Linked DNA regions of Homo sapiens. The protein of the gene in region 1 purifies or fractionates together with the protein of each later gene. This does not show direct contact. Each region holds a gene or a part of one and is shown on either strand. Other genes may lie near its edges.

Region 1 (4,109 bases):
GGGAGGGAGAGAGGTGAACTGTGAGGGAGGCCGGGAACTAAGGAGGCTCATCCTCACACCTACTGGGTAGGGAGCCATGATTATAGAGGAGATGAAATGACACGCCCTGGGAGACCCCACTAGGATGTGGGGGAGTCACAGCTTGAACACAGGTCTGACTGCCGAGTTCCTCACTCCCCTCTCTTCTGGAGAATACGCCCACACGCCACGTTTTCCTTCCAAATGGGAAAAGGGACGGCCCATACCCCAGCTTGTCTTTCCATTCCTGCCCCACCCTAGCCCCCAGGCTTGGCTGATTTTTGTCCACTTCTGGTTAGTGCCCCCGGCGTGTCTTACCCGCACAGGCCACCCCCCGGGGCCCCAGCCTCGGCGCTCGCTGTCCCTGACACCCATTCCACAGACTCACTCGTTAAAAAGCTTCTTCCAGTTGCTCTGGACAAAGTCCCAGACCAGACCTTGCCCAATGACGTTGTTGGTAATGCTGATGATGGTAGAGGTGGCGTCCTGCTTCCGGATTAAGTCCGGGTTCAGGGTGTAGCTCAGGTACCTAAGAGGGCCAGATGCTGTCTCAGCTACTGCTAATTCAGGTGACTCAGGAGAGAACTTGGACTGTCCCACGCACATCACCTATGCCTGCATCCTCTCAACATCCCCTCGGCCTGCCAGGGGCTGAGGGACCCCTTGGTCCTTCTTCCCTCTATAGATGGAAAACTGAGTCACCTAAGCAGGGTCACAGGGTCACTGGCTAAGCTAGTGTCATGCCTGACATAGAAATATTTGACAATGAATCAATGAAGGAAGGAGTCCTAGCGCCCCAAGCCCTGGCACCAGGTGGGTGGTCACTCCCGTCTTTGACACTGAGGGTGGCCCTTCTTTTCTTTTCTTTTCTTTTCTCTTTTCTTTTCTTTCGAGACGGAGTCTCACTCTGTCGCCCAGGCTGGAGTGCAGTGGAGCGATTTGGGCTTACTGTAACCTTCGCCTGCCAGGTTCAAGTGATTCTCCTGCCTCAGCCTCCCGGGTAGCTGGGATTACAGGCATGTGCCACCATGCCTATTTTTTTTTTTTTTTTGTATTTTTAGTATTTTTAGTAGAGACGGGGTTTCTCCATGTTGGCCAGGCTGGTCTCGAACTCCTGACCTCAGGTGATCCATCCACCTCAGTCTTCCAAAGTGCTGGGATTACAGGTATGAGCCACCACACCCTGCCCAAGGGTGGCTCTTCTTTACTGCATCCAGGTAATGGCATATGAGGCACATGGTGGGAGGTGGGGACCCTCATCCAAGGGCTTGAGGGGGTGCCCAGCTGGATGTTTGAAAAGACCCAGGTCCAGCTACACCAGAGCCTTTGACAGAAGGGAAGACGAGTTGTTGTCAGGTAAAGGCTAAGAGGCCACAGCAGCTAGGAACAGAGGACATGGACCCAGACCTGAGTCCATATCTTGTCTCTATCACTTATTAAAGCTTCCAGTCTGCACCGGTTACTTTGGAAATACTGCCTCCACCTCAACAGGTCTGTGGGGGTCACGTGAAGGATCTGGCGAGGAGTGTGGAGGCCTGCCTGGTTCTCCAGGTGGGGAGAGGGCTCTCGCAGTCCCACCCTGCGCCAAGACTCACCTGTTCAGGATCCACAACTCTTTGCTGCAGGCCAGGGCTGCCCGGAGCTTGTCAGCCTCATTGACCAGTGTGGCATTTCGGAACTGCTCCCAGGCGAAGTCCCACTCCTCCTCCCCGCCCTGGGCGATAGCGTTGCAGTAGACGGTGGACCGCAGGTTGGGGTGGATCCTGGTGTGGGGTAGGGAGGTCAGGTGTGGAACAGCAGCGGGGAGGGTGGGACAGGGTTCTGCTGAGGACGGGGCTGTTGGGGGCAGATGAAGACTGGCAGAGGAGGCGCAGGGGAGACACTCACGGGTTATTATTGGGGTTCTCCATCCACTGCTTGAAAAGGCCAGAGACCATCTCCTCACACTCTGGAACTCCGTTGGAGCAGGCGGTGCTGATGGCATTAACCTCGCTGTACCTGCCCCAGGGGTGACACGCGGTTAGCACACCTGGCGAACTCCAGCCAAGATTCACCTCTTGACACACAACCCCAGGCCGGCACCCTGCCTAAGGCTCTGTGGCCTAACTGGCCCTCTGACCCCCGCTGTATGTGCTTTGTGCCTTGGGCCTGAGGTTCCTTGGTCCCCAAAGCAGCCCTGTGACCCAGAAGGGCAGGAACAGGCTCCAGCCCCAGTTTCAACACCTAGAAACTGTATAACCTCAAGCCAGTGGGGTGAGCTAGAGTTTCAGTTTGGGTCTTTGTATAAAGAGGTCCGATGGGCCCTCAGGCCACATGGAGCCTCAGGGCAGGACCTCCCTGCTCCTGGGTGGGGGTCTCTCCCTGCCTGGTGCCCCCGCATTGAGAGCTGCGGCAGAGAACACTGCCAGGATGTTGCTCTTGACTCCCCGGGGTGCCCAGGACTTCCAAACCCATGAGAGCTCCCACTCACTGGTCCATCAGGTTTTCTGGGATCTCCCTCCAGTTGTTGGTATTATTTCTGAAGTGAATGAAGAGGGGTGTGACCTGCTTCTTCAGGTAGTTCTGGGGAAAAGAAAATATGAATCTCATCAAAGACTCATGCCTGACCTGCCTGGAGCCCCACAGAGCCTCTGATGTTGGGGGGCAGGCGCTGGCAGAGACGTCAGAGGTCAGGGCCTCACCTGAGGCCAAACAGTGCTCAAAGGGGCCCATAGAAGTCTAGAGTTCAAATAACTGAGCTGAGTTTCTTTCTGCTTAAAGCCTTAGTCAGTTGCAATATTCTTTGTCTACGGGTCACCATTTCTTAATATAAAATGTTGGGTTTTCCCTACACAATCATAAATATTCCATGAGTTGCTGGGCGCAGTGGCTCACACTTGTAATTCCAGCATTTTGAGAGGCTGAGGCGGGTGGATCCCCTGAGTCCAGGAGTTCGAGATCAGCCTGGGCAACATGGTGAAACCACGTCTCTACTAAAACCACAAAAAAATTAGCCGAGTGTGGTGGTGCACACCTGTATTCCCAGCTACTTGGGAGGCTGAGGCAGGAGAATCGCTTAAACCCGGGAGGCAGAGGTTACAGTGAGCTGTGATCACGCCACTGCACTCCAGCCTGGGTAACAGAGCGAGACTCCATCTCAAAAAAAAAAAAAAAAAAAAATTCCATGACTTATTGTAGGGAATTTGGGAAACACAGAGAAGTATATGCAGAAAATAAAACACACCCAGGAGCTCACCAAAACTACAGTTTCCACATTGATGCATTTACACCTTCTTTTTTCTATAGTTTTTTCTTTTTTACTTAGCATATTCTTCACATGGCATTTTTCTCCTAACATTGTAGTGTAAGCCCCACCCCATGCTAGTAAAATCCTTTGTGGACTCTGGTTTGACATGGCAGGTTGATTTCTGTGCCCACCTGGATCCACGTCCAAATGTAAAAGGAATAAACCCCCAATAACAAAGAACAGGAGAGGCAACAGCGGATGCAAGGTCAATATAGTTTAGGCAGCTGGGACGCGCAGAAAGGGAGATGTACCAGGCTTGGCAGAGTGGGAGAATTTGCAATTGAGAATCTGCAGAAGGGGAGACAGAAGCAAGGGAACTTGCTGTGACAAGACTCAGAATTAAAGGGACAAGGCCAGGTATGGGGGCACATGCCTGTAATCCCAGCACTTTGGGAGGCTGAGGCGGGCGGATCACCTGAGGTCAGGAGTTTGAGACCAGCCTGGCCAACGTGGTGAAACCCCGAAGCTACTAAAAATACAAAAATTAGCCAGGCATGGTGGCAGGCGCCTGTAATCCCAGCTACTCAGGAGGCTGAGGCAGGAGAATCGCTTGAATCTGGGAGGTGGAGGTTGAAGTGAGCCAAGATCGGGCCACTGCGCTCCAGCCTGGGTGACAGAGTGGGATTCTGTCTCAAAAATAAATAAATAAATAAAAATAAATAAAAAAATTAAAGGGACAAGTCAGCAAGGGACAGAGGGGAGGTAAGGACTGCAAACAGGAAGATGAAGTCAAAGTCTACAGAAGGAGTCATTCAACCCCCAAGTCCCCACTTCCCTCCTTGTAGAGGGCAGCACCCCTCACCAC
Region 2 (4,109 bases), on another chromosome or scaffold:
AGAGAAGGGGTGAGCCTGAGATGCCCACAGGCCTTGAAAAACTAGCGTTTGAAATGGAAAGACAGAGGGACGGTCCAGAGGGATGGTAACTGGGAACAGAGGAAAATGCCACAGGGTCGGGGAAGCCTTAAATACTAGACAGAACAGTTTAGGTTTAATGACCAGGAGGCAATGGGCAAACTTGCTGGAAGGTTTTCAGCAATACTGACATCCTCCATCAGAAAGACAACCTAAGTTATCACACCACTACCCACCCCCAACCCCTGCACCGCCCCCGCCAGCAGCAGCAATCATTACTTGATAGCTCCTAGGCACCAGGCAACAAATGTCTCTGGTTCTAAGGCACACTTCTTTTACCATTTCTTTAATTAGGATACATTTAGTAATCGTGTGTACATTTAAAAGCTGTTTTGGTTAACCCTTCAATTAACACCATTTTTGAAGCCAGAAAACATGACATTCAATTAGAAAAAAGTTAAAAACATAAACAGGCCGGGCGCGGGGGCTCATGCCTTTAATCCCAGCACTTTGGGAGGCCGAGGTGGGCAGATCACTTAGAGTCAGGAGTTCCAGACCAGCCTGACCAACATAGTGAAACCCTAACTCTATTAAAAATACAAAAAAATTAGCTGGGTGTGGTGGTGCACGTCTGTCATTCCAGCTACTTGGAGGGAGGCTGAGGCATGAGAATCAGGCCTGGGAGGGCCTTGAACCCGGGAGGCAGAGGTTGCAGTGAGCTGAGATTGCACCACTGTACTCAAGCCTGGGTGATGGAGTGAGACTCTATCTCAAGGAAAAAAAAAAAAAAAAGATGGCGGGGCGCGGTGTCTCACGCCTGTAATCCCAGCACTTTGGGAGGCCGAGGCAGGCGGATCACGAGGTCAGGAGATCGAGACCACTGTGAAACCCCGTCTCTACTAAAAATACAAAAAATTAGCCAGGCATGGTGGCGGGCGCCTGTAGTCCCAGCTACTCGGGAGGCTGAGGCAGGAGGATGGCGTGAACCTGGGAGGCGGAGCTTGCAATGAGCGGAGATCGCGCCACTGCACTCCAGCCTGGGCGACAGAGCGAGACTCCGTCTCAAAAAAAAAAAAAGTTAAAAAAATAAACATACAGCCGGGTGCGGTGGCTCACGCCTGTAATCCCAGCACTTTGGGAGGCTGAGGTGGGTGGATAACCTGAGCTCAGGAGCTTGAGACCAGCCTGGCCAACACCTTGAAACCCCGTCTCTACTAAAAACACAAAAAAATTTAGCTGGGTGTGGTGGCATGCGCCTGTAGTCCCAGCTACTTGGGAGGCAGAGGCAGGAGATCACTGCTTGAACCTGGGAAGCGGAGGTTGCAGTGAGCTGAGATTGTGCCACTGCACTCCAGCCTGGGCGACACAGTGAGACTTCATCTCAACAACAACAAAAAAAAGGTCAAAAACACCCATACATATATACCATATATACTTGTGTACAGAGGGTATACACATACATGTATTATATATGTAAGTACAGACATACATGGCACACCTACACACATTTTTGGTACAACAATGCAAAACAGTAATCTTTTTTTTTTTTTTGAGGCAGGGTCTCACTCTGTCTCCCAGGCCGCAGTACAGTGGTGTGACCTCAGCTCACTGTAGCCTCTGCCTCCCGGGCTCAAGGGATCCTCCCACCTCAGCCTCCCGAGTAGCTGAAACTACAGGTGTACACCAGCAAGCCCAGGTAACTTTTGTATTTTTAGTAGAGATGGGTTTCACCATTTTGCCCAGGCTGGTCTTGAACTCCTGACCTTGAGTGATCTGCCCATCTTGACCTCCCAAAGTGCTGGGATTACAGGTGTGAGCCACCGCACCCAACCCCAAACAGTAATTATTATTTTATAGATTAGGAAGCTGAGGCTCAGGAGGGCTGGGTGACATTCATGACATAATATGAGTGACTAGTAAGTAACTGTGCCAGAGGAAGTTATAAATAGTAATTCTTACTTTATGCCGTAATGTTTTAATTTCATTGGTTTTTGAGCATTAAGTATTAATAGCTTTTTTTCTTGACAGTTATCTAACAGCTTCCTCAGTATATTCTCATTTCTCGACAAATAAGCCAACATCAAACCCAGCTCGCTCACATGGTATTTCTCCACAGCTTGGCCATCAGCTGGACGGCAGGAACTGTTTTCAAACTGAGCTCCTCAAAGTCCTGCAGGTCACCAGCGACTGGGGTGTAACATTTCTTCCTTTCCAACAAAAGCAAGTCTGCTTTTATCTGCTTTCTCTATCTGGGAGTAAAGGAGACCCCAGGCTCATAACCAATGAACCTTACCAAATAATGGGCAAAAACAAATGAAATGAAAACCTTGGCTGGGTGTGGTGGCTTACACCTGTAATCCCAGCACTTTGGGAGGCTGAGGCAGGCAGATCACCTGAGGTCAGGAGTTCGAGAACAGCCTGGCCAACATGGTAAAACTCCCATCTCTACTAAAAATACAAAAATTAGCCGGGCATGTGGCAGGGGCCTATAATCCCAGCTACTCAAGAGGCTGAGGCAGAAGAATCGCATGAACCCAGGAGGCAGAGGTTGCAGTGAGCCAAGATCACGCCACTGCACTCCAGCCTGGGTGACAGAGTGAGAATCCATTTCAAAAAAAAAGGAAGAAAACTGATCAAGTCACACAGTAATTATCGAACATCCAAACCTCCGAAACTATGCGTCGAACACAAGAAAAGTGATCACAGTCTTGTACTGTGTACTTAATAAACTGCACAAGAAACATGAATAAACAATATCCCAGGAGCCCAGAATTTGTTTCTAAGCTCTGTGTTTGGGAAAAGTGAAATCACTCATGACATCAGGAATGTAGTAAAGAAAAAGACATTGCCCTGGTTCCAGATGACATCCTGGGGTCAAGAACAGATCCATCCAGTCCTGGGTCTGGAGCAGTCCCACCTCCTCACCGTAACACGCTTTTCGCCCGATGCACCCTGCAGAGAACCCCAATGCCCTCCTGACACAGTCACTGCCATCCAAGTACAGCACAAGAACCCTAAGGCTGGAACCGCCTTTCCTAGGGCAATGAAGGGAATGTGAGCATTTTAGGAGTCCTTTTAGGAAAAGGGAATAAAGTATTTCTGCTTAATCTTCAGCTAACAGAAAATTCAATTCAATTAAATTGAAAATAAAAATTAAAAAGTTTTTACTGTAATAACAATCTCAATTGCATACTCCATGATTTAAAAACTGTCAAGAGTACCCCTCTTGATGCGTTTCAAGTACTTTCTCTACATAAGTTACAAGAACATAACATAGCAATCATAACATTGATTGCTCTTCTAATCCTTCCCACAAAAATTAAAAAAAAATAAAGGGGGTACGATGTACACTATTTGGGTGATGGCTACACTAAAAGCCTAGTCTTCACCATTATGTAATATATTCATGTAACAAAACTGCATGTGTATTCCTCAAATCTATAAAAGCAAAAAAAGTAATAATAAAAAATAAATAGGCAACATGGGAGGCGAGAAATCCAGTTTTTGACTCACTGATTGGATCGCAGACCATCAAAGAAACACTGGGTTACCTACCAAGCCTTGGCATAACGGCTCCCAGAAACTGCTCATCTTCTTGGAAGTGGTTCTCCTGTAAAGATTCCAGCAATTTTTGCAGGACATCTTGGGGCACTTTGCAGCCTGTGCCCTTCAGTTCAGTGAATCTGGTTAGCCGGAAGCTTTTGTCCAATTCGTAACTTTCCGGGTTAAAGGACTCCCGCGTAGACATGGTTCTTGGGCCCCGCTCTCCTCACAGCTCAGCCCCTCCCCTCCCTCTGCGGGTTGGCTGGGTTCTTTATGGATCCACCTGGGTGTCACCAAAACACAAAGATGCCATGAAAAGAATTCCCACTGGGACCTGCCAGCGAATCAAGTGAATACATGACAGCGAAAAGTCAATGTGACAAGGGCTGAAATCATCAAGACCACTTATATTCACCACAGCAGTGCATATGACAAAATAGATCTTTTCATAACGGGACTGCGTCAGCACAGACATCTATGTAAAATCTGACATCTGGACTGTGGTTTTAACTGTGGCAAGAGGGCCAGCCTGCAGGTTCACATGACAC
Region 3 (4,109 bases), on another chromosome or scaffold:
TCAAATAAATATTTCCAGAGAAATATTTAACTCCAGAGAAGGGATAGAGGAAGGAAAGGTAACAGGCAGATGGACTAAGTGGGTTGAAGTAAAAAAAGAAAAAAAACAGAAAAATACAAACTGTTGTTTTAACGTAGTAAATTACAATTATGAAATCTAGCTTTTACCAGGTTGTGGGAAAGTGAGAAAGCGGAAATTGACATTAAGTATTGTGAAAATTAGATTTGGGGAAACTATCATACAAGGAGGATCAAGTTGCCATTTCATGCTCTTAATGATTAGGGAAAACCACTAGGTACAAGTTTTAGAATTAAAGTAGTAGTAGGAAACTAATACTCAAGCTTGAAAGAATGTTTGTGACATATGCCCTTTCATGGTCCTAGAAAAAGTCAGGTGTTAAAGTCGAAGGAGTAGAATTTGTAAAATTCAGCAGTAGCATTGGGATTCAATAAGAATTCATAAAAACTCCAGAAGGTATCATAAATCTTTAAAAAAAGAACCCTGATCTGAAATCACTAAGTTAAAAAAAAAATCAATGAAACATAATATAATCAACCTGGCATTAAAGAAGAAATTGGGAATATATGAGCTACACAAGGTAAACAAAGATTCCTAGGTGCTTACCAATACTGTTTGTGCATCTGCCAGGTCAAAGGTTTGTTTTAAAGGTGCTAGGAAACATGCGGGGACAATGTGCTTATAAACAAAATCAGCAAATCCCACTGGTCCATCTTTACCTCCTGTCAAGAGAATTCAAATTTTCATCTTATATATAAAAGTAAGTCAATTAATTCATCACCAGGGAAAACCAACTCCCAGTTTCTCTCTCTGTTAGGGCTATGTTCCATTATGTCTAAGAGTTTTATGAAAGAGTTTGGGAAATGAAGGTTAAGAAATAAAATTATCTTACCCCAGAGTTCTACCAACTTTGAGAGGATGATAAAACATGTTTTCTGTGCAATTGGATCTGGATATTCAACTGCTCCTTGGATAACAGTAACCAACACTCTTTCTACATTCTCTGCACCTGAGGAGAAAAACCTTTAGTTTAAGCAATTTCCAAAATTAACTAGGAAAGCAACCTGAAGTTCTCTTTTCATATACATTAACAAGTCAAAAATCATTTACAGGTGGAATGGGAAAAATGAAGGGGGAAAAAAGCATTTACAGAATTGCCAAAATCCCTTGATTTTTATTAACTGGGCACCTAAAGTTTAAACATTAAACACTGAAAAATCAGCTGGGCGCGGTGGCTCCTGTCTGTAATTCCAGCCCTTTGTAAGGCCGAGGAAGATTGCTTGAGCCCAGGAGTTTAACCAGCCTGGGCAACGTGGTGAGATCCCATCTCTACAAAAAATAAGCCCAGCATTGTGGCAACTGCCAATGGTCCTGGCTACTCAGGAGGTAGAGATGGGAGGATAGCCCAGGAGGTGGAGGTTGCAATGAGTCGTGATGACACCACTGCACTACAGCCTGGGCAAGAGAGTGAGACCCTATCTCACAAATCAAATCAAATTAAAAAATAAAACAATGAAAAATCAGTTTGCCCCTGGTATCTTGTTCCCTAAATTTCCTATACAGAATTCTCTACACAAATCTGTACAGCTCCATTTATTTTATATTTCAAAATGGCAAATTTGCCATAAAGACTCAATTGTCAGGTCAATTCTGGTAAGTAACCATGTTATTTATATTGCTAAAGAACCAAATTAAAAAAATATTGCAGAAAGAAAAAGGAACAGAATACAAATTAATTTTAGGTGCTTTACATAAAAGTGATCAATTCCCACCCTGAAAACAATAAACTGTCTTCCCATGGGATAGCAAACTTCAAAATTTCTGTATTTACTTCAGTTTGCTCTTGGTCATATAGATGTACAACAGTGACACAGACTTAAGCAGACAAATTAGATATGGCATGTGTTCCCACCTTGATTTGCTATAACTTCGCTCATCCCACTGCCTGTGACTGTTTGCAGGAAAGCAAAGTAACTCCTCCGCAACATCTGCTTCTCTAAAGCAGCAGACTGGTCATTTTCTTCTGCTGGCCGGAGCAGCACTTCAAAAATTGCATGAAGCAGGGGCATGAACATCTGTTGTAAAAACGGGGATACCTGTATCTGAAGATAAACAATCATTACTTCAGAAATTAGTAACAATATTAACATACAACTTAGAAAAAACTATTTTACATAAAGCCTTTCTTTTCTATTTAGGATGCATGCGTACATAATTCAGTTAGCAAATATCAATTTTAAGATAAAATCTATATAACCTAAACATTACTAGGCCAGACGCAGTGGCTCACACCTGTAATCCCAGCACTTTGGGAGGCTAAGGCGGGTGAGTCACCTGAGGTCAGGAGTTCAAGGCCAGTCTGCCCAACATGGTGAAACCCCATCTCTACTAAAAATACAAAAATTAGCTGGGTGTAGTGGCGCACGCCTGTAGTCCCAGTCCAAGCTACTCAGGAGGCTGACGCAGGGGAACTGCTTGAACCTGAGAGGTGGAGGTTGCAGTGAGTCAAGATCATACCACTGCACTCCAGCCTGGGCAACACAGCAAGACTCCATTTCAAGGTGGGGAAAAAACCTTAAAAAATATTACTAAAAGACTCAAGATCATTAAATTTAAACCCTTTCCTACAGCTTAAGATTTAGGTTAAAATAATAGTCAGACATATTTCACAATATTGCCATGGAATATTTTCAAAATTAAATTCTCAAAAAATGAATTATATGATTAAACTCTTAGGGTTTTTCTTGTTTTTGAACAAAGGTAAAAAACATTGTTTAATAGCATGTTCTCAATACTTGCTTACAAATGAACTCCTGAGTTTTATGAACTCTTGGGCAAATCCCTTCACTTCTCCATGCCTCAGTTTCCTCAACTATAACATATAATCCCTGTCTTCTAGGGTAGGTATGAAGATCAAATGAGTAAATGTACAAAAAATGCTTAGAACAGATTTTGAACATAGAAAGTACTATGTAAGTGGCCAGGTTTATGCCTGTAATCCTAGCACTTATGGAGGCCGAGGCAGGAGGATCACTTGAGGTCAGGAGTTCGAGATTAGCCTGGTCAACATGGGGAAACGCTGTCTCTACTAAAAGTACAAAATATTAGCGTGGTGTGGTGCATGCACCTATAGTTCCAGCTACTCAGGAGGCTGAGGCACAAGAATCGCTTGAACCTGGGAGGTGGAGGTTGCAGTGAGTTGTGACCGCGCCACTGCACTCCAGCCTATGTGACAGAGTGAGACTATCTCCATTTAAAAAAAAAAGAAAAAAGGAAAAAAGAGGTACTATGTAAGTATTAACCACTTTTATTAGCCAGCTTAAATGTCCTACAGAAAACTGACTTTAATACATTGAATTACTTTTAACTCTTGCTTGGGTACCTGAATTATGGTGCTTATTTAGTACTCAGTTTACTGGTTTTATATGCTCTTCTAAAACAGCAGACTAGTTTTCTTTTGCTACACAAAGCGGTTAGGGTCTGTTTATATTCAAACATCTATTAAGCATGACCTATGTATCAGGCAGTGTGCCAGACACCACAGATGATAAAAATACATATGATCCATGAGGCTCTTAAGTAATTCATTAAAAGCAAAAAAAAAGAAACCCAAGGGCAAAATCCGAAACATGTCTGAAGATAAATACATCTGATCTTCAAGAGATTTTCAGAGCTCTGAAAGTTTGCGGTACCTTGAATTTGGCCGTAATCTGGTTGATAAGAGGAATGAACTCCTGGAGATCTTTTGCTTCACAATCTTTGAGCATATGTTCTGAAGCAGATGGAATGAACGGAAGAACTTCTTCCTCCAGGCAAATAATCATTCGATGAAGGAAAGTACGGACTCCACTTCTGAGAATATCCTTTTGTAAGGGACAACTGAGGGCTGGCAAGAATGTCTGTAAACAGTCCAGATAAACTTCGGAACAGCCACATTGTTTCACAGTCTGTTTGTTGCTGAAAGCTTTACTGGTTCGACTATATAAGCAAAAATCAGGCAATCAGATGCAACTTTATTCTTTAAAAGTGTTATGGAGTATTCAAAAGCAATGCACAACAAATTACAAAATTAACAAAACTAAATAACCAGA
Region 4 (4,109 bases), on another chromosome or scaffold:
TGCAGCCAGCATCGCCCGCTATCAACGGCCACGGGACCCGCATTACCTCCGAGAGTTTGACACACATCTGCTCCTCCCAGCCTTCCTCTGGTGGAGATTCTGGAAGGAACACCCAGTCCGCACCGCAGGCCAAGGCACTCACCAGGGCCAGGTACCTATGTGGACAAGGCAACAGCATCAACACCCCAGAAGGATCCTTCCCACGAGGGCAGCCCAGGCACCCCGCTCAGCGACAGACGTGCAGACCTAACGCCAGGTATGAAGCGGGATGCCGGCCCCTTCAGGACTTTCCACGGGAGCATTCAGGATGTGGGGTGCAGCCTCAGGGAGATGATGCTGAGGGTCCCCCACCTGAACCGCGTCCACCGGACCCACCGCAGGTACGTACCCACAGTGTCGTCCCATCACCTCCAGAACGAAGGTCCTCTGGTGGCTGGAAGAGAAACAGAGGGAGCCCCGGACACAGCTCAGAAAGCAGAGAAACAGAGGGAGCACCCACTCAGTCCTGGAAACAGCTCAGAAAGCAGAGAAAAGGGGCTTTGACAGCCGAGTTAGCCAGGAGGCCTGCAGGGACCTAGGCTTCAAAAATGGTCCATTTTCTACTAAGGCAAACGCTATGCAGTAGCCTTCCAGACTCCTGCGAGGAAGGGGACTTGAGCCACCTCTGCGCTCTCCAGTTGCACGTTGGACACCTTCTGCCTGCCTGTGCCAGGACACACTCACACTCCCCGGCCCCGTGCTGGGCTCTTTCCCAGATACCTTCTCTATTGGGCACAGTCGGCAGCTGCTGTCGACAGCCACGGCTGGATCTCTCCCACGGAAACAAGTGAGTGCCAGACTCACTAAGTGCTTAATGCCCAGAGACTGTGGGTCTTCCCAGGGAATGGAAAAATCCAACTGCTCCGAGCAGCCTTCCAACTCGGTGATTTTCCACCAACTGTGGGGTTCACGCCCACGCACTGAGAATGTCCAGTGAGGCGTCACTGGGAACAGGACACGCACACAGAGGACTGGGAGGCGCCATGCTGGGGACTGGATTCGGGCACTCTCCCAGTCTCGAGCACCTCGTCCTTAAAGGGGAGACACTTATTCTATTTACCATTCCACATGGTTTTCATGCAAATTGCTTCAGAAATTGTACGGTGCGCCCCACAGTCTTTAGTGATAACCTGCTGAGCCTAGAGCACCTCGGATCAAACGCTGTGGCCCCCACGACACTTCGTGAATCCGTAGGTTACACAGGGCAGGACATCGCTGGCTGCGTTTCTAATGAGTAGTGTGGAAAATCCACACAACAGTTTCCTGCTTGCCACTCCTTCTGGAGATGTTTGGGTAGGACATTTAGAGGATAATTACTTTGTTTCTTCCTTCCAAATTCTAATAAACTGTTTTCTATCATCAGGTTAAAAACAAGGAATGTTTTAAAATTAAAAATGAAAAGTAGACCAGAGAACAATGTTCTGGCAATAGCTCCTAAAAGTCAAGTTACGAGACCAGCACCAGGACACCCAATCTGCAGAATGTTCTAGAGCCCGTGGTAACGTCTGAGCTGGGCACACGTCGGGCCCCACTGGCCTCCCGCCGGTTCCTCTGAGCGCTTTACCTCTGGGCCGTGGTCATGATGGCGTCGACGACCTCGATGATCCTGTGCAGGGCGGAGTCCGTGCCGATGGTCATGTCGGTGCCGCAGAAATCATTGTCGATGGAGCCCACCATGCCCACCACGTTGAGGTAGGCGTACTTCTGCACGGCCTCCTTATCGATCTGGCCTGCGCGGGGAGCAAACAGCACGTCTCATCGCCGTAACCATGGCGCGTTCGGGGGGTGCCCCACTAGGGGTGAGGCAGAATGGCCATGGGTAGAGAAATCAACCATTCTAAACTCTTTGTTATTGGTATCATTTCTTTATTATCATTTTTCTGAGACAGGGTCTCACTGTTGACCAGGCTGGAGTGCAGTGGCACCATCATAGCCCACTGCAGCCTTGAACTCCTGGGCTCAGGCGATCCTTCTGCCTCAGTCTCCTGAGAAGCTAGAACTATGCCTGGCTGATTTCTTAATTTTTTTTGTAGACCCACACTCTATGTTGCCCAGGCGGGTCTTAAATTCCTGGGCTCAAGTGGTCCTTCTGCCTTGGCCTTCCAAAGTGCTGGGATTATAGGTGTGAGCCACTGCCCTGGCCGATTCTTTATTTTCTCCGAACTCAAGGCAACCGGATTCTGCATAGTTAAGGAAAGAGAAGCCAGACAAAGCTGGCAGCAGTTACACACAATGGACTCTGTCACCTGGCACTTAGACAAGAGCAGTGGATTAGAAAAATAAAAGAAAGGATCCACATTTGCAATCGGTAAACAAACATCTCAGTACTTCCTGGCAACAGCTTCAGAGAATGACACGGCTTTGAACAGGATACGTTACAATTACGGAATTAAGAATCTAAGACACTAGGCCATCTTCACACTGATTTCTCATGCATCTGTGGGAAGCTGGATCGTGGGTGAGCATCTGCCTCGCACTCAGGACAGACCTGGGCTGGGCAGTTCTGCATAAAGGGAATCGGAACCACTGAAGGGCCAGGGGCAAGCTTGGGCCCGGACTTGTGGCCACTGTCCCGGTCTGTGCACTCACTGTGCTGTGCCAGACGGGATGAGGTGGACAAGCGGGAACCGTGAGGCCTGGCTGCTTCCAACGGGCAGCCTTCTCCATCCCCTACGAGGATGTTCACAAACCTGGGGACAGCTGCTTTGCCTCAATGCCGCCTCTCATCGAGTTGCTGTTAAACAATATGCTTCCCTGGTCATATTTAATATTGCACTGAAATTACATAACCGCTTCAAGGGAGAAAAACTACACTTTGGGAGGCCGAAGCGGGTGGATGACCTGAGGTCAGGAGTTCGAGACCAGCCTGGCCAACATGGCGAAACCCTATCTCTACTAAAAATAAAAAATAAATAAAAAAATTTTAAAAAAGCTGGGTGTGGTGGCGCATGCCTGTAATCCCAGCTGCTTGGGAGGCTGAGGCAGGAGAATTGCTTGAACCCAGGAGGCAGATGTTGCAGTGAGCCGAGATCGTGCCACTGCACTCCAGCCTGGGCAATGGAGAAAGACTCTGTCTCAAAACAAACAAAATCAAACAATCAAACAAAACAAAAATAAACCACATACACACAGGGCTCTCAGAAACGCTTTCCTAAGTAGTGCCAAAGTTGGTACTGGATGATGTATTGGCAGAGATTTATCGTCTAAATAAATTAAAGTCCTGTGGCAACTTCAGTTTTTTTTTTTTTTTTTTTTTTTGAGACAGAGTCTCGCTCTGTCGCCCAGGCTGGAGTGCAGTGGCGGGACCTCGGCTCACTGCAAGCTCCGCCTCCCGGGTTCACGCCATTCTCCTGCCTCAGCCTCCCAAGTAGCTGGGACTACAGGCGCCCGCCACTACGCCCGGCTAATTTTTTGTATTTTTAGTAGAGACGGGGTTTCACCGTTTTAGCCGGGATGGTCTCGATCTCCTGACCTCGTGATCCGCCCGCCTCGGCCTCCCAAAGTGCTGGGATTACAGGCGTGAGCCACCGCGCCCGGCCCAACTTCAGTTTTAAAGGACCCCAGCGAGCTGGAGGGACACAGTGTGAGGGCTGAAAGGCGGATGCTAGTGTCCCAGGCTGCTGGGGACCCGGCTCGCCCCACGGCTGAGTGGCCGTTTGATTCCTCATCTGTAAATGGGATGATCTAAAACCTGGCTTAGATGGCTGTCGTGAGGATTCCATAAAGCTATCTGTGTGAAAGGTCGAAGGGTGCCTGGCACATGGTAAGGTTAAATTACTAGCATTCTTACGATCATTGCTGTTGTTTTTTGAGATCCTAAAAAGTCCTGAGATGGTGACCTGTAAGATCTGTGAGAAGAGGTACTTCTGCCACAGTGAAGAGGGAAACCTGTCGGTTCCAAAGCTCTGAAACAGGGCGAAAACCCGCAGGACAGAGGAGCAGGTGTCCACTCACCGTTCCTGGCCAGCTCCTCCAGCAGCCCACTCCACTCCTTCCGGAAGAGGTTGGCCCCGGTGAGGCTCCCGTCCCCGCCGATCACACACAGGTTGGTGATGCCGCGCTGCAGCAGG
Region 5 (4,109 bases), on another chromosome or scaffold:
TGGAGTCTTGCTCTGTTGCCAGACTGGAGTGCAATGGCACTATCTCGGCTCACTGCAACCTCCGCCTCCCAGGTTCAAGTGATTCTCCTGCCTCAGCCCCCTGAGTAGCTGGGATCACAGGCATGCACCACCATGCCTGGCTAATTTTTTTTTTTTTTTTGTATTTTTAGTAGAGATAGGGTTTCGCCATGTTGACCAGGCTGGTCTCAAACTCCTGACCTCAGGTGATCCACCTGCCTTGGCCTCCCAAAGTGCTGGGATTATAGGTGTAATTTACCACACCCAGCCAAGATTTTTTTAAAATAAGAAAAGAGCATGAGTTCTATAAATCGGTCCTAGGTCTGAGTCCTGGTTCCAACATTAATTTGCTCTTTGACCCTGGATAAGTTACTCTGCAAGTCTAAGATTCCTCATCTGTAAAGTGTTGATAATTATAACTCCCTCACAGGGATTACTGTGAATATTTAAATAAGACAATGAATGCAACATGAATCTTGCTTTCATGGAGCGTATAGTCCAGTGGGAGACACAATTAGGAAGTAAACATATAGAATTACAGCTTGTGCCAGGTTCTCTGAGGGAAAAAGAACACTGTTCTCTTAAGAAGAATAATAAAGGAAGGGAGATGTTTTAACTTGGATGATCAGAGAAAGCTTCTAAAGTGGTGATACTAGACTGAGACCTGAATGACAAGGAGGGAAGTCAGTAACATAAAGGCGGGCTCCTCGGCACTGCCCAGGAGTTCTGGAGTATTTCCCCAGTAAACTAGTGTTCCTAACAGTAGTTTCAGATGTTCTTTGCTCTTCTCAGACTTTCTACCATTTATCTTAGGAAGAAAATTGAAGCCATCAGATAAAATTCCCTTAACTCCATGTAAACCACTGCTTCCAATTTTTCTGAGTGATCTTTTTTTTTTTTTTAATAGAGATGGAGTCGCACTATGTTGGCCAGGTTGGTCTTGAACCCCTGGCCTCAAGGAGTCCTCCTGCCTTGGCCTCCCAAAGTGCTAGGATTATAGGCGTGAGCCACCACATCCAGCCTATCTTTTTTTTTAATTAAAAAAAATTATTTTTTGAGACAAGGTCTGATTCTGTTTCCCAGGCTGGAGTGTAGTGGCATGATCATAGCTCACTGCAGCCTTGAACTCCTGGACTCAAGCAGTCCTCCTGCCTCAGCCTCCTAAGTAGCTGAGATCACAGGTGCATGCCACCAACATCTGACTAATTTTTAAAAATTTGTAATGGAGATGATGTCTTTCTATGTTGTGCAGGCTGGTCTTGAACCCCTGGGCTCAAAGCAGTCCTCCCACCTCAGCCTCCCAATTACAGGAATGAGCCACCACACTCAGTTTTTTGTTTTTTGTTTTTTGTTTTTTCCCAGTCAGGGTCTTACTCTGTCACCCAAGCTAGAGTGCAATCATAGCTTACTATAATCTCAAACTCCTGGGCTCAAGCGACCCTTCGACCTCAGCCTCCCGACTAGCTAGCTAGGACTACAGGTATGTACCACCATGCCCGACTAATTAAAATTTTTTGTTGTTGGGATGGAGTCTTGCAATGTTGCCCAGGCTGGTCTCAAACTCCTGGCCTCGGGTAATCCTCTTGTCTCATCCTCCCAAAGTACTGGGATTATAAGCATGAGCCACTGTGCCTGCTCATTATTTCTTTAAGTACTTTTTCAGCCACACTGTCTTTCTCCTGTCCTTGAGATATTCCAGTGACACAAATATAGCTTTAGGTTTTTGGTTTTGGTTTTTTTCCCATTCTGTTCTTGTTATTTAAATTAGGTAATTTATGTTGTTTTATCTTCTAGTTCACCAGTCTTTTTTCTCTGTTCTCTATTTTACTGTTGACCTCAAGCATTATTATATTTTTCACTTCTAAAATTTTTATTTGATTCTTCTTTATATCTTCTCTTGCCTTGCTGAGTCTGTTTTCATTTTTTTCTTTTTTTCCTTATTAAATTTTTTTTAAATTTTTTTTTTTTTTTTGAGATGGAGAATCTTGCTGTGTCGCCCAGGCTGGAGTGCAGTGGTGCGATCTTGGCTCACTGCAACCCCTGTCTCCCAGGTTCAAGTGATTCTTCTGTCTCAACCTCCTGGGTAGCTGGGACTACAGGCGTGTGCCACCATGCCCAGCTAATTTTTGTATTTTTAGTAGAGATGGGGTTTCGTCATGTTGGTCAGGCTGGTCGCGAACTCCTGACCTCATGATCTGCCTGCCTTGGCCTCCCAAAGTGCCACCGCGCCTGGTCTGTTACTCATTTTTTTTCAAGCATATTTGTTTACTTTTGAAAATTTAATTGCATTTTTTTATGGCTCCTTTAAAATCGTTGTCAAATAATTTTAACATTTCTGTTACCTTACTGTTGGCATATATTGATTATCTCTTTTTGAGTTTGAAGTCTTACTGGTTCTTAGTATGATTCAGAGTAATTTTTTATTGAAACCAGGACATTTTAGGTGATATGAGACTTTTCTGTTTTAGTTTGAGTCACTGACGTCACTCCAGCAGTGGAAGGTAGGAGCACTGCCTTGTTACTGCCAGATTGGGGTTAATGTTCTTTGTAAAAATTTTTATAGGCCAGGCACAGTGGCTCACGCCTGTAATCCCAGCACTTTGGGAGGCCGAGGCGGGCGGATCACGAGGTCAGGAGATCAAGACCATCCTGGCTAACACGGTGAAACCCCGTCTCTACTAAAAATACAAAAAATTAGCTGGGCATGGCAGCGTGTGCCTGTAGTCCCAGCTACTCCAGAGGCTGAGGCGGGAGAATGGTGTGAACCCGGGAGGTAGAGCTTGCAGTGAGCCCAGATCGCGCCACTGCACTCCAGCCTGGGTGAAAAGCGAGACTCCGTCTCAAAAAAAAAAAAATTATTTTATTTTATTTATTTTATGTTATTTTATTTTATGTTATTTTTATTTTTTATGTTATTTTATGTTATATTATTTTGTTATGTTTTATGTTGTTATTTTATTTTATTTTGTTATTTTATGTTGTTTTGTTATTTTATTTTATGTTATGTTATTTTGTTACGTTATGTTATTTTATTTTATTTTGTTATTTTATGTTATTTTATTTTGTTATTTTATTTTATGTTGTTATTTTATGTTATTTTATTTTGTTATTTTATTTTATGTTATGTTGTTATTTTATTTTATGTTATGTTATATTTGAGGTGGAGTTTCGCTCTTGTTGCCCAAGCCGGAGTGCAATGGTGCGATCTCAACTCACTGCAACCTCCGTCGCCTGGGATCAAGCGATTCCCCTGCTTCAGCCTCCCAAGTAGCTGAGATTACAGGCAGGCACCATCAGGCCTGGCTAATTTTTTGTGTTTTAGTAGAGACGGGGTTTCACCATGTTGGCCAAGATGGTCTCGATCTCCTGACCTTGTGATCCATCCGCCTCGGCCTCCCAAAGTGCTGGGATTACAGGTGTGAGCCACTATGCCCAGCCAGATTAGGGTTAATGTTCTTTCTGGTTCCCCACTTGGCTTCTCTTGACACCCAAGGTGCAGGGCTATGCAGAGGTTGGAATTCTGACTCCCCACTAGGATTCTATTGATACTTCCCTAAATGAGAGGGGTATGGGTATGTCATTTCTGCTTCCCAGTTGGCTTCTACTGACACCATGTTGGGAGGAGGTGGCCTCATTACTGTTGGGCAGTTGTGAAAGTCCTGACTTTCCACTAGACTTCCTATGACAGCACCCCAGCAGGGAAGCAGGTAGAGAACTTCATCGCTGCTTGATGAGTGTTGAAGTTCAGGCTCCCCAGAAGGTATCTACTAACATCGTGGTGGGGGATAGTTCTTACTACCCAGCAGGAATGAAAGTCCTTGCTCTCTACTCAGACTTCTCTAACACCTCCCCTGTGGGCAGATTGGGGCAAGTAATTACAGCCTGGCAGGGGTAGAAATCTAGGCCCCTATTGGCATTTGCTGGCATGGGTGGAGCTGCAGTTTTTTCTGTCGTGTTTGGCTGAAGTAGAGCAGTTACTGTCTACTAGCTGTTTCCTGTCTTACTAGTTGCTGCTTTCCTGGTACGTTGGCTAGAGAGAGCAGATTTTGGGGGAGGTTTTTGTCTGTGCCCATTGGTGTTTCCAGGCTGCT
Region 6 (4,109 bases), on another chromosome or scaffold:
TTACAGGCATAAGCATGAGCAACCACGCCTGGCCCTCTTTTTTTTTTTTTTTTGAGATGGAGTCTCGCTCTGTCACCCAGGCTGGAGTGCAGTGGTGTGATCTCGGCTCACTGCAACCTCTGCCTTCCAGGTTCAAGCAATTCTCCTGCCTCAGCCTCCTGGGTAGTTGGGATTACAGGTGCCCACGACCATGCCTAGCTAATTTTTGTATTTTTAGTAGAGACGGGGTTTCACCATATTGGTCAGGCTGGTCTCCAACTCCTGACCTCAGGTGATCCACCTGCCTCAGCCTCCCAAAGTGCTGGGATTACAGGCATGAGCCACCGCGCCTGGCCTATTATTTATTTCTTTAAGGCCAAAATGCAAACAGATTCCCGCCTGCTAGTTGCTGCATGTGACCCTCAGCTGAGGGTGATGGGGTTCCTAGAGCTTGGTGGTCTCCAAGGGGAGGTGCAGGAGGACTCCAGGAGTCCCATTCGCACCCCATGGTGGGGGCAGGTTGTTAGGAAGAAAGACAACTTAACTCTGCTTCGAATTTTTTTTAGAGAGTCTCGCTTTGTCGCCTAGGCTGGAGTGCAGTGGCGCGATCGTGGCTCGCTGCAGCCTTGAACTCCTGGCCTCAAGGCATCCTCCTCAACCTCCCAAGTCGCGGGGACTATAGGCATGTGCCACCATGCCTGGATAATGTTTTTATTTTTTGTAGAGATGTGGTCTTGCCATGTTGCCCAGGTTGGTTTTGAACTCCTGGGCTCAAGCCATCCTCCCATCTCAGCTTCCCAAGTACCTGGGACCACAGGCACATGCCACCATGCCCAGCTAGTTTTTTAAAAAATCATTTTTTGTAGAGACGAGGTCTCCTTGTGTTGCCTGGTCTCAAACTCTTGGATTGCCTCAAGTGATCCTCCCGCCTCAGCCTCCCAAAGTGCTGGGATTACAGTGTGAGCCACTGTGCCCAGCCTGCTTTCAATTCTGAAATCCAAGGGAGAAATATAAGCTGGCAAACAAAAGTTTTAGCCATCCCAATTTTGGGCTGTACTAATCATATCCAGGATAGAGACTCGAAGCTAAAAGTTACCTTTTCTTTCACTCTCGTAATCCAGGAAAGTTCTAATTGGGACAAGCCTCTGGAGCTGCCTAGTGTGGGTGTCTGCTGGAAACTTCTAAAATGTCTCGGCCTATTTAATTGGAGAATTCACTGAAGAATTAAAGGACTCAGTAAAGAAGAGGTTTGGTTTGTTCATGAAAGTAAGTAGCTTGTGAAATGCTTTATTTTCCTGTGACTAAAATTCCACCTTGTAATTCCCAATAAGGATTGCTTCAAGCTATTTAATACAAATTAAACCTGTTTCACCATGCTCATAGGAAAATGTCAAAGTATCTTCATTCACCAACTGAGGGCTGGCTCTTCTTTGAAGGTAGCTCTGAGATTTGTTTTGTAATGGAGACAAAGACTTATTTAACTGTTGGGGAGGGGGAAGGAGGACTTAGGCCAGGCAGGCGGGGATGTGGGGGACGAACCATGAGGGGCAATTTGGCTGCCTCTGAAAAGGTCCAGAGCTACCTTAAAAGACAGGCTTTCTATAACAAGTGGTCCTTTCTTTTCCTTTCTTTTTTTTTTTGAGACAGAGTCTCACTCTGTTGCCCAAGCTGGAGTGCAGTGGTGCGATCTCAGCTCACTGCAACCTCCAGCTCCCAGGTTCAAGCAATTCTCCTGCCTCAGCCTCCCAAGTAGCTGGGATTACAGGCAACCGCTACCATGCCCAGCTAATTTTTTGTATTTTTAATAGAGATGGGGTTTCACCATGTTGGCCAGGGTGGTCTCAAACTCCTGACCTCAAGTGATCCACCCACCTCAGCCTCCCAAAGTGCTGGGATTACAGACATGAGCCACCGCGCCCAGACACAGCTGGCTTTGTCGCCCAGGCTGGAAGTGCAGTGGCACGATCTCGGCTCACTGCAAGCTCTGCCTCCTGGGTTCACGCCATTCTCCTGCCTCAGCTTCCCAAGTAGCTGAGACTACAGGCGCCCGCCACCACGCCCGGCTAATTTTTTGTATTTTTAGTGGAGATGGTGTTTCACCATGTTAGCCAGGATGGTCTTGATCTCCTGACCTCGTGATCCGCCTGTCTTGGCCTCCCAAAGTGCTGGGATGACAGGCGTGAGCCACCACGCCTGGCTTACAAGTGGCCCTTTCTAAGCCCCAAGATGTCACTGTCTTTTCACTGAAGGCGGAAAAAGAATGTAGGCATGTTTGTCTGAGAGGGAGGGAGTAGTTTTAGGAGAAAGGACCAAGAGCACATTTTGAGTGGGAAGTAAGTGGTTTCCTTTTCTAGCCTTATGATATGGTTTGGCTCTGTGTCCCCACCCAAATCTCATGGTGAACTGTAATCCCCAGTGGTGGAGGTGAGGCCTGGCGGGAGGGACTGGATCATGGGGGTGATCCTTCATGAATGGTTTAGCACCATCCTCTTGGTGCTACTCTAGTGATAGCGTTCTCACAAGATCTGATGGGTGAAAAGTGTGTGTCTCTTGTTTTTGCTCCTGCCATGCAAGACGCCTACTCCCACTTCACCTTCTGCTATGAGTCAAATTCCCTGAGGCCTCCCCAGAAGCAGAAGCTTCCTGTACAGCCTTGTGGGCCACGAGCCAATTAAACCTCTTTTCTTTATAAATTACCAGGTCTCAGGGATTTCTTTATAGCAGACTAATACACCTCAAAGTAGGGATTTATTTTATTATTCTATTTTTTTTTTGAGATAGGGTCTCGATCTGTCACCCAGGCTGGAGTGCAGTGGCATGATCTCAGCTTGCTGTAACCTCTGCCTCCCGGGTTGAAGCAATTCTCATGCCTAAGCCACCCAAGTAGCTGGAATTACAGGTGTGTGCCACCCTGCTCAGCTAATTTTTGTATCTTTAGTAGAGTTGGGGTTTCTCCATGTTGGCCAGGCTGGTATCAAACTCCTGGACTCAAGCAATCTGCCCACCTTGGCCTCCCCAGAGTGCCAGGATTACAGGCATGACCCATCTTGCCTGGTCAGTTTTTTTTTTTTTAAATCCAGTTAATGCTGGGTGCCATGACTCACACCTGTAATGCCAGTGCTTTGGGAGGCCGAGGTGGGAAGATCACTTGAGGCCAGGAGTTTGAGACCAGCCTGGGAAACATCTCATCTCTACCAAAAAACAAAAACAAAACAAAACAACAACAACATCAAACATAGCCAGGTGTGGTGGTGCACACCTGTAGTCCCAGCTCCTTGGGAGGCTGAGGCAGGAGGATTGCTTGAGCCCAGGAGTTCAAGGCTGCAGTGAACTATGATTGCACCACTGCATTCCAGCCTGGGCAACAGAGCAAGAACCTATCTCTATTTAAGAAAAAATGCTCCTAAGAAATCATCTTAGTACTTGGTAAGCTATTAAGGTTTTTTTTAAGTGTATTAATTACATAGCCAGTATAATAACTTAGTTGCTAAGAGCTTTGAGGTGGCTCCAAGCAAGAAGAAAGGAGTTGTTGTTAAGCTACAGCTCAGAGTCTCAGAATGAACTGTTTCCATCTTCGCTGTCCTTTGCTTAACTGTGGGATAAATATAATTTTCTCAACATTCAACACATGTGTCCTTAATCGTCCTCTACGACACTGGTTCCATGTTGCCAAGAGAACCCAGAACAGCCGCAAACACCTACTGGATTGTTACTGGCCTTTCCTGAGAGGATGACCCGGGCTTTGACCTTGTTCATGTTGAAGTTCTTCAAGTAGGCCTCGTAGATTCTCTTGGCCAGAGATTTGAGATCTGCAGTTTCAGAATCTTCTATGTCATGTTCACAGGTAAGAATTTCTGCTTTCAGTTTTGCTTTCTCAGATCTTGGCATTCGTCCAAAACGAATCGCTAGGGTTTGGAGGGGGAAACACAGGCATGAGCAGTGAGGTCATGACTGCGCGGACAGGGCTGGACGAGGGGCTCCCCCAGGACTTTAAACCAGGAATGAAAATTCACAGGCAGTTCAGACCCATCCTTCATTACTATTCGGCTTTCCACTATGGAGAGATGAAAAACTCAAACTCCATACACTGTAGATGTTTAAACAGGTGCAGGCTGAAGGTGACACCATCG
Region 7 (4,109 bases), on another chromosome or scaffold:
GATGTTTTTGCTCTTGGTAATATTTGATATATTCATCATTTTAAATTAAAAGGGAGTATAGTAATTTCTAAAGGCTTTTACATTTGTGACAAGAAGATTAAGGCAAATAAAGGAAGTAGATGAAAACTAGTTTTAAAACTGCAAGCTTAAAAAAGTCAAAATTATAGTATACGTATATTTAGATTGATGCATTATCAGCTACCTTATTAAAAGGAGATTGTTGATGTTCCTGTTGAGATACAGCTAGATACGGAAGCACGTTCTGAATAAATAAATGTAAGCTCATGCACATTTTTGGATCCTGTTGTAATTCCCATGGCAGTCCTGTACCATATATGGTATCTGTGGTGACCTGTAGTTAATCATACTTTCCGCTGAAAGTATGATAGCTGGAATTCCCATCTTACAATGAGTTTGGGTGGAAACAAATTTATTAGACTCATTTAAGTACTGAGAATGTAGAGCAGTAAATCTTGCAATTTACCTTTGAAGTGGTAAGAATTTGAAAGGTAATATTTCCATTCTGCAGAAGACTTATGGCCACAGGAGAAATGAAGAGTTTAAAATTCTGTAATTATTGTGTTTAATCCAGAAGATCCTCTTCACATTTAAGACATTCCATAAATTTCCATTCTTTTTCTTCTCTACTGAAGTAGGGTGTCATTTTAGAAAGCCTACTTTGTGTATTTACTATAAAATTAAACAACAGCATGAAAGTGAAACAACTGCAGATAACACCTTTAATTTTCGTTCTCTCTTTGGCATTAAATTTTTCCATCAGGATTTAATGATTCGTCTGATAAGGTTTCTATCATGCAATTAATACAATTTGCTTAGTACTATAAAATGCAACAAAACTATTTTGCTTAGGCTGCAGTAGGTAATACTTTATATTATCATCTTTAAAGTTTGTTATATTTTAATTTAAAATATGGGCATTCTTGTATACAGAAGTTATTTTTATTATAAAATATCTTTAAAGGTCATTAGTTCATCATTAATATACTAGTGTCTTTACATTTTTTACTTTATTTTGTTTTCAATAAGGCATCCAAACCTCACAAAAACATAATATCAAATGACTTCATAGTTTCAAGAAACATACTATAACTGAAGTCTATTGAATATTATCCCTTTCAAAAGTTGTATTAATGAATTAACTGTACATTCTTTCTAATAATATCCTATGCAGCAAAGAAAATGAATGAGCTACTGCTATATAGTTAGGAACTTTGAAAATATTAGTAATGTTCCATTTCTTAACCTTGAACGTGAATACCCTAATGTTCATTTTATTATTTATTAAAACACACACATGCTATATGTAATCTTTGGTATTTATAATATATTTTATGAAGAACATTTTTTAAAAAGGAAAGAAATGAGCAATAGAGGGTATCAACTAAACTAAACCTCTTGAGTATAGACAAACCCTACTCTGAGCAAGTCAAAAATAGAAAAGGCATACATAAAACAATATTAGGAATGAAAAGGAAGTATAGTTTTGGAGAGAACAGATGTTAAAAAGTAAAATAACATGAATAGATAATTCCAATTAACTTGAAAATACAGACAAAACAGACAACTTCTTACAAAATACACATAACCAACATTGACTTGAGGAGGTATACAAAATCTAAATAGACCTGTAACCATTAAATAAATTGAATTAGAAGTTAGAGAGCTCCACACACACTTCTTTAGATCCACCAGGCCCAGGTTTGTGATAAGTTATTTCTTTCAGAATTATATGGAACAATGTACTTTATGTAAATTGTTTCAAAGAACAAAAAAATACAGAACTCTTCTTAACTCATTTTATGAGGATCGTATGAAGTTGAAAAATAGTAGCCTGATCTCACTTACAGACAAATATGTGAAATGAGATAAATTGAAAACAAACCAATATATTTGTAAGATATAAATATTTTATGTTCTTGTAAGGCTTATCAGGAAAGGAAACATGGGTTCACATAAGAACATCTATTATTGTATTTTAACATAGTATCAACAGAGAAAATGTATCAACAGAGAAAAACTGATTATTTCAAGAAAGTGGAAACATTTCATTTCAAAAGAATTCATAGAATTCATAGCACACTAAGAATGTAGAGAATGAACTTTTTTTTTTTTTGAGATGGAGTTTTGCTCTGTTCCCCAGGCTGGAGTGCAGGCTGGAGGTTGGCTCACTGCAACCTCCGCCTCCCAGATTCAAGTGATTCTCCTGCCTCAGCTTCCTGAGTAGCTGGGATTACAGGCTTGTGCCACCACAGCCGGCTAATTTTTGTATTTTTAGTAGAGACGAGGTTTCACCATGTTGGTCCGGCATGTCTCGAACTCCTGACCTCATGATCCGCCTGCCTCGGCCTCCCAGAGTGCTGGGATTACAGGCATGAGCCACTGCGCCTGGCCAAGAATGAACTTTCTTAATGTAATGAAACATATCTAACAAAAATGAATGAATGAATGAATGTTACAAGGAAAAAAGAAAAAGACTCATAATTAATGGCAAAACTGTAAAAATATTCTCTTTAAGTTAGAAACAAATCCATAATGGTCAGTACAGGTGTTTCTGTTCAGCATTCCAGAAGAGGTCCTAACAAGCATATCAGATAAAAATTAGCAATAATGAAAGACTTGTAGGATTAAAAGAAAAGAAACCTAGTTGTCATTTTGCCAGCGACAGGATTAACTACATAGAAAATCCAACACTATCTATTAACAGATACTAGAACTAATAAAAGTAAGCAAGTTTCATGGATATAAGCTTAATATTTTTAAATGATTTCTATATATTATCAAGGGACAACTCAAAAATATGTTAAGAAGAATCCCATTCATTACAGCAACAAATCAATGTATCTAAGATAAATGTAACAAAAAATGTGAAAGACCTTTTTAGCAAAAATTGCAAAGCTTTATTGAAAAACAAACATAATTCGGCCGAGTGCGGTGGCTCACGCCTGTAATCCCAGCACTTTGGGAGGCTGAGGCAGACAGATCACGAGGTCAGGAGTTCAAGACCAGCCTGTCCAACATGGTGAAACCCCATCTCTACTAAAAATACAAAAATTAGCTGGGGGTGGTGGCAGGCGCCTGTAATCCCAGCTACTCAGGAGGCTGAGGCAGGAGAATTGCTTGAACCTAGGAGGCAGATGTTTCAGTGAGCTGAGATCGCACCACTGCACTCCAGCCTGGGCCACAGAGCAAGATTCCATCTCAAAAAAAAAAAAGGAAGAAAGAAAGCAAAAAGGAAATATAATTCATAAGTAAGTGAGAATGAATCATGTTCATGGATGGAAAGTCTCAAGAGCCCTAAATGTCAAATCCTCTTTAAATTAATATTTAAAGGAAATGGAATTTCATCAACATCCTAAAATAAATTTTTACAGAACTTGGGGAACTGATCATAAAATTGTTTTGAGAGTCAAAGTCTAAAAAGAGCAAAAATACTACTTTAAAAAAAAAGATTGAGCAATGGGGAACTTTGAGGTTTTTGAGTATCTGGTATACAGAAAATTTTAATAAAGATGTGTCAAATGAAAAAAACAAAATTGAAGCACTCTGTTTATCAGAAGATTTCATAATAAAAGTTAAAAAGCAAACTAAGTAAACCTACAAGAAAAAAATTTAACAAGCACAAACAATAGATAAGTGATTAAAGGAGGAAGAATAGATGATTTACAGAAGATAAATGGCAAATAAACACAAGAAAATACAGTCAATCTCACAACAAATAAATAAAATGCAAATTAAAACAGCCATTAGGTTGGCAACATGGAAAAAGTCATAAAATTATTTGTAAGGGAGGATATGGGAAATAGAGAGATTTAATATGCTAGGGGCATTAATAGAAATTGATATTAGTACTTTGTAGAGCAACTTGGCAATAGCTAATAAAATTGAAGTTGTTCATGTATGGCACAGTAATTTCCGCTTTAGGCACAGCTGTTCATATAGTGTCATTTGTAATAGAAGAAATGAAAAGCAATCTAAATAACCATCAATAGGAGAATGACTAAAAATAAACTGTGGTACATTTATGGAAAAATCTCAAACATACTGTTGGATGAAAAAAGCAAACTGCAAAAGGATGCATATAAACAGAT

The links.
Region 2: the proteins of ANPEP (region 1) and SEPHS1 fractionate together in Homo sapiens (co-fractionation; one large-scale study listed by BioGRID). This does not show direct contact.
Region 3: the proteins of ANPEP (region 1) and XPOT purify together in Homo sapiens (affinity purification with mass spectrometry, with the first as the bait; one large-scale study listed by BioGRID). This does not show direct contact.
Region 4: the proteins of ANPEP (region 1) and PFKP purify together in Homo sapiens (affinity purification with mass spectrometry, with the first as the bait; one large-scale study listed by BioGRID). This does not show direct contact.
Region 5: the proteins of ANPEP (region 1) and ZYG11B purify together in Homo sapiens (affinity purification with mass spectrometry, with the first as the bait; one large-scale study listed by BioGRID). This does not show direct contact.
Region 6: the proteins of ANPEP (region 1) and PPARA purify together in Homo sapiens (co-immunoprecipitation; one large-scale study listed by IntAct). This does not show direct contact.
Region 7: the proteins of ANPEP (region 1) and DSC3 purify together in Homo sapiens (affinity purification with mass spectrometry, with the first as the bait; one large-scale study listed by BioGRID). This does not show direct contact.

Annotation. Positions count from the first base shown.
Region 1 is NC_000015.10:89,790,547-89,794,655, forward strand, and holds part of ANPEP (aminopeptidase N precursor), read right to left. Parts: intron 2,581-4,109; coding exon 2,489-2,580; intron 2,017-2,488; coding exon 1,906-2,016; intron 1,782-1,905; coding exon 1,614-1,781; intron 548-1,613; coding exon 407-547; intron 1-406. UniProt on the Homo sapiens protein: Broad specificity aminopeptidase which plays a role in the final digestion of peptides generated from hydrolysis of proteins by gastric and pancreatic proteases.
Region 2 is NC_000010.11:13,341,185-13,345,293, forward strand, and holds part of SEPHS1 (selenide, water dikinase 1), read right to left. Parts: intron 3,845-4,109; 5' UTR 3,767-3,844; coding exon 3,574-3,766; intron 1-3,573. UniProt on the Homo sapiens protein: Synthesizes selenophosphate from selenide and ATP.
Region 3 is NC_000012.12:64,431,425-64,435,533, reverse strand, and holds part of XPOT (exportin-T), read right to left. Parts: intron 3,997-4,109; coding exon 3,711-3,996; intron 2,121-3,710; coding exon 1,931-2,120; intron 1,028-1,930; coding exon 911-1,027; intron 741-910; coding exon 625-740; intron 1-624. UniProt on the Homo sapiens protein: Mediates the nuclear export of aminoacylated tRNAs. In the nucleus binds to tRNA and to the GTPase Ran in its active GTP-bound form. Docking of this trimeric complex to the nuclear pore complex (NPC) is mediated through binding to nucleoporins.
Region 4 is NC_000010.11:3,101,439-3,105,547, reverse strand, and holds part of PFKP (ATP-dependent 6-phosphofructokinase, platelet type), read right to left. Parts: coding exon 3,994-4,109; intron 1,770-3,993; coding exon 1,604-1,769; intron 940-1,603; exon of another isoform or gene 434-939; coding exon 389-433; intron 156-388; coding exon 47-155; intron 1-46. UniProt on the Homo sapiens protein: Catalyzes the phosphorylation of D-fructose 6-phosphate to fructose 1,6-bisphosphate by ATP, the first committing step of glycolysis.
Region 5 is NC_000001.11:52,764,147-52,768,255, forward strand, and holds part of ZYG11B (protein zyg-11 homolog B), read left to right. Parts: intron 1-4,109. UniProt on the Homo sapiens protein: Serves as substrate adapter subunit in the E3 ubiquitin ligase complex ZYG11B-CUL2-Elongin BC. Acts to target substrates bearing N-terminal degrons for proteasomal degradation with the first four residues of substrates being the key recognition elements.
Region 6 is NC_000022.11:46,219,587-46,223,695, reverse strand, and holds part of PPARA (peroxisome proliferator-activated receptor alpha), read right to left. Parts: intron 3,885-4,109; coding exon 3,682-3,884; intron 1-3,681. UniProt on the Homo sapiens protein: Ligand-activated transcription factor. Key regulator of lipid metabolism. Activated by the endogenous ligand 1-palmitoyl-2-oleoyl-sn-glycerol-3-phosphocholine (16:0/18:1-GPC). Activated by oleylethanolamide, a naturally occurring lipid that regulates satiety.
Region 7 is NC_000018.10:31,035,923-31,040,031, reverse strand, and holds part of DSC3 (desmocollin-3 isoform Dsc3a preproprotein), read left to right. Parts: intron 1-4,109. UniProt on the Homo sapiens protein: A component of desmosome cell-cell junctions which are required for positive regulation of cellular adhesion. Required for cell-cell adhesion in the epidermis, as a result required for the maintenance of the dermal cohesion and the dermal barrier function.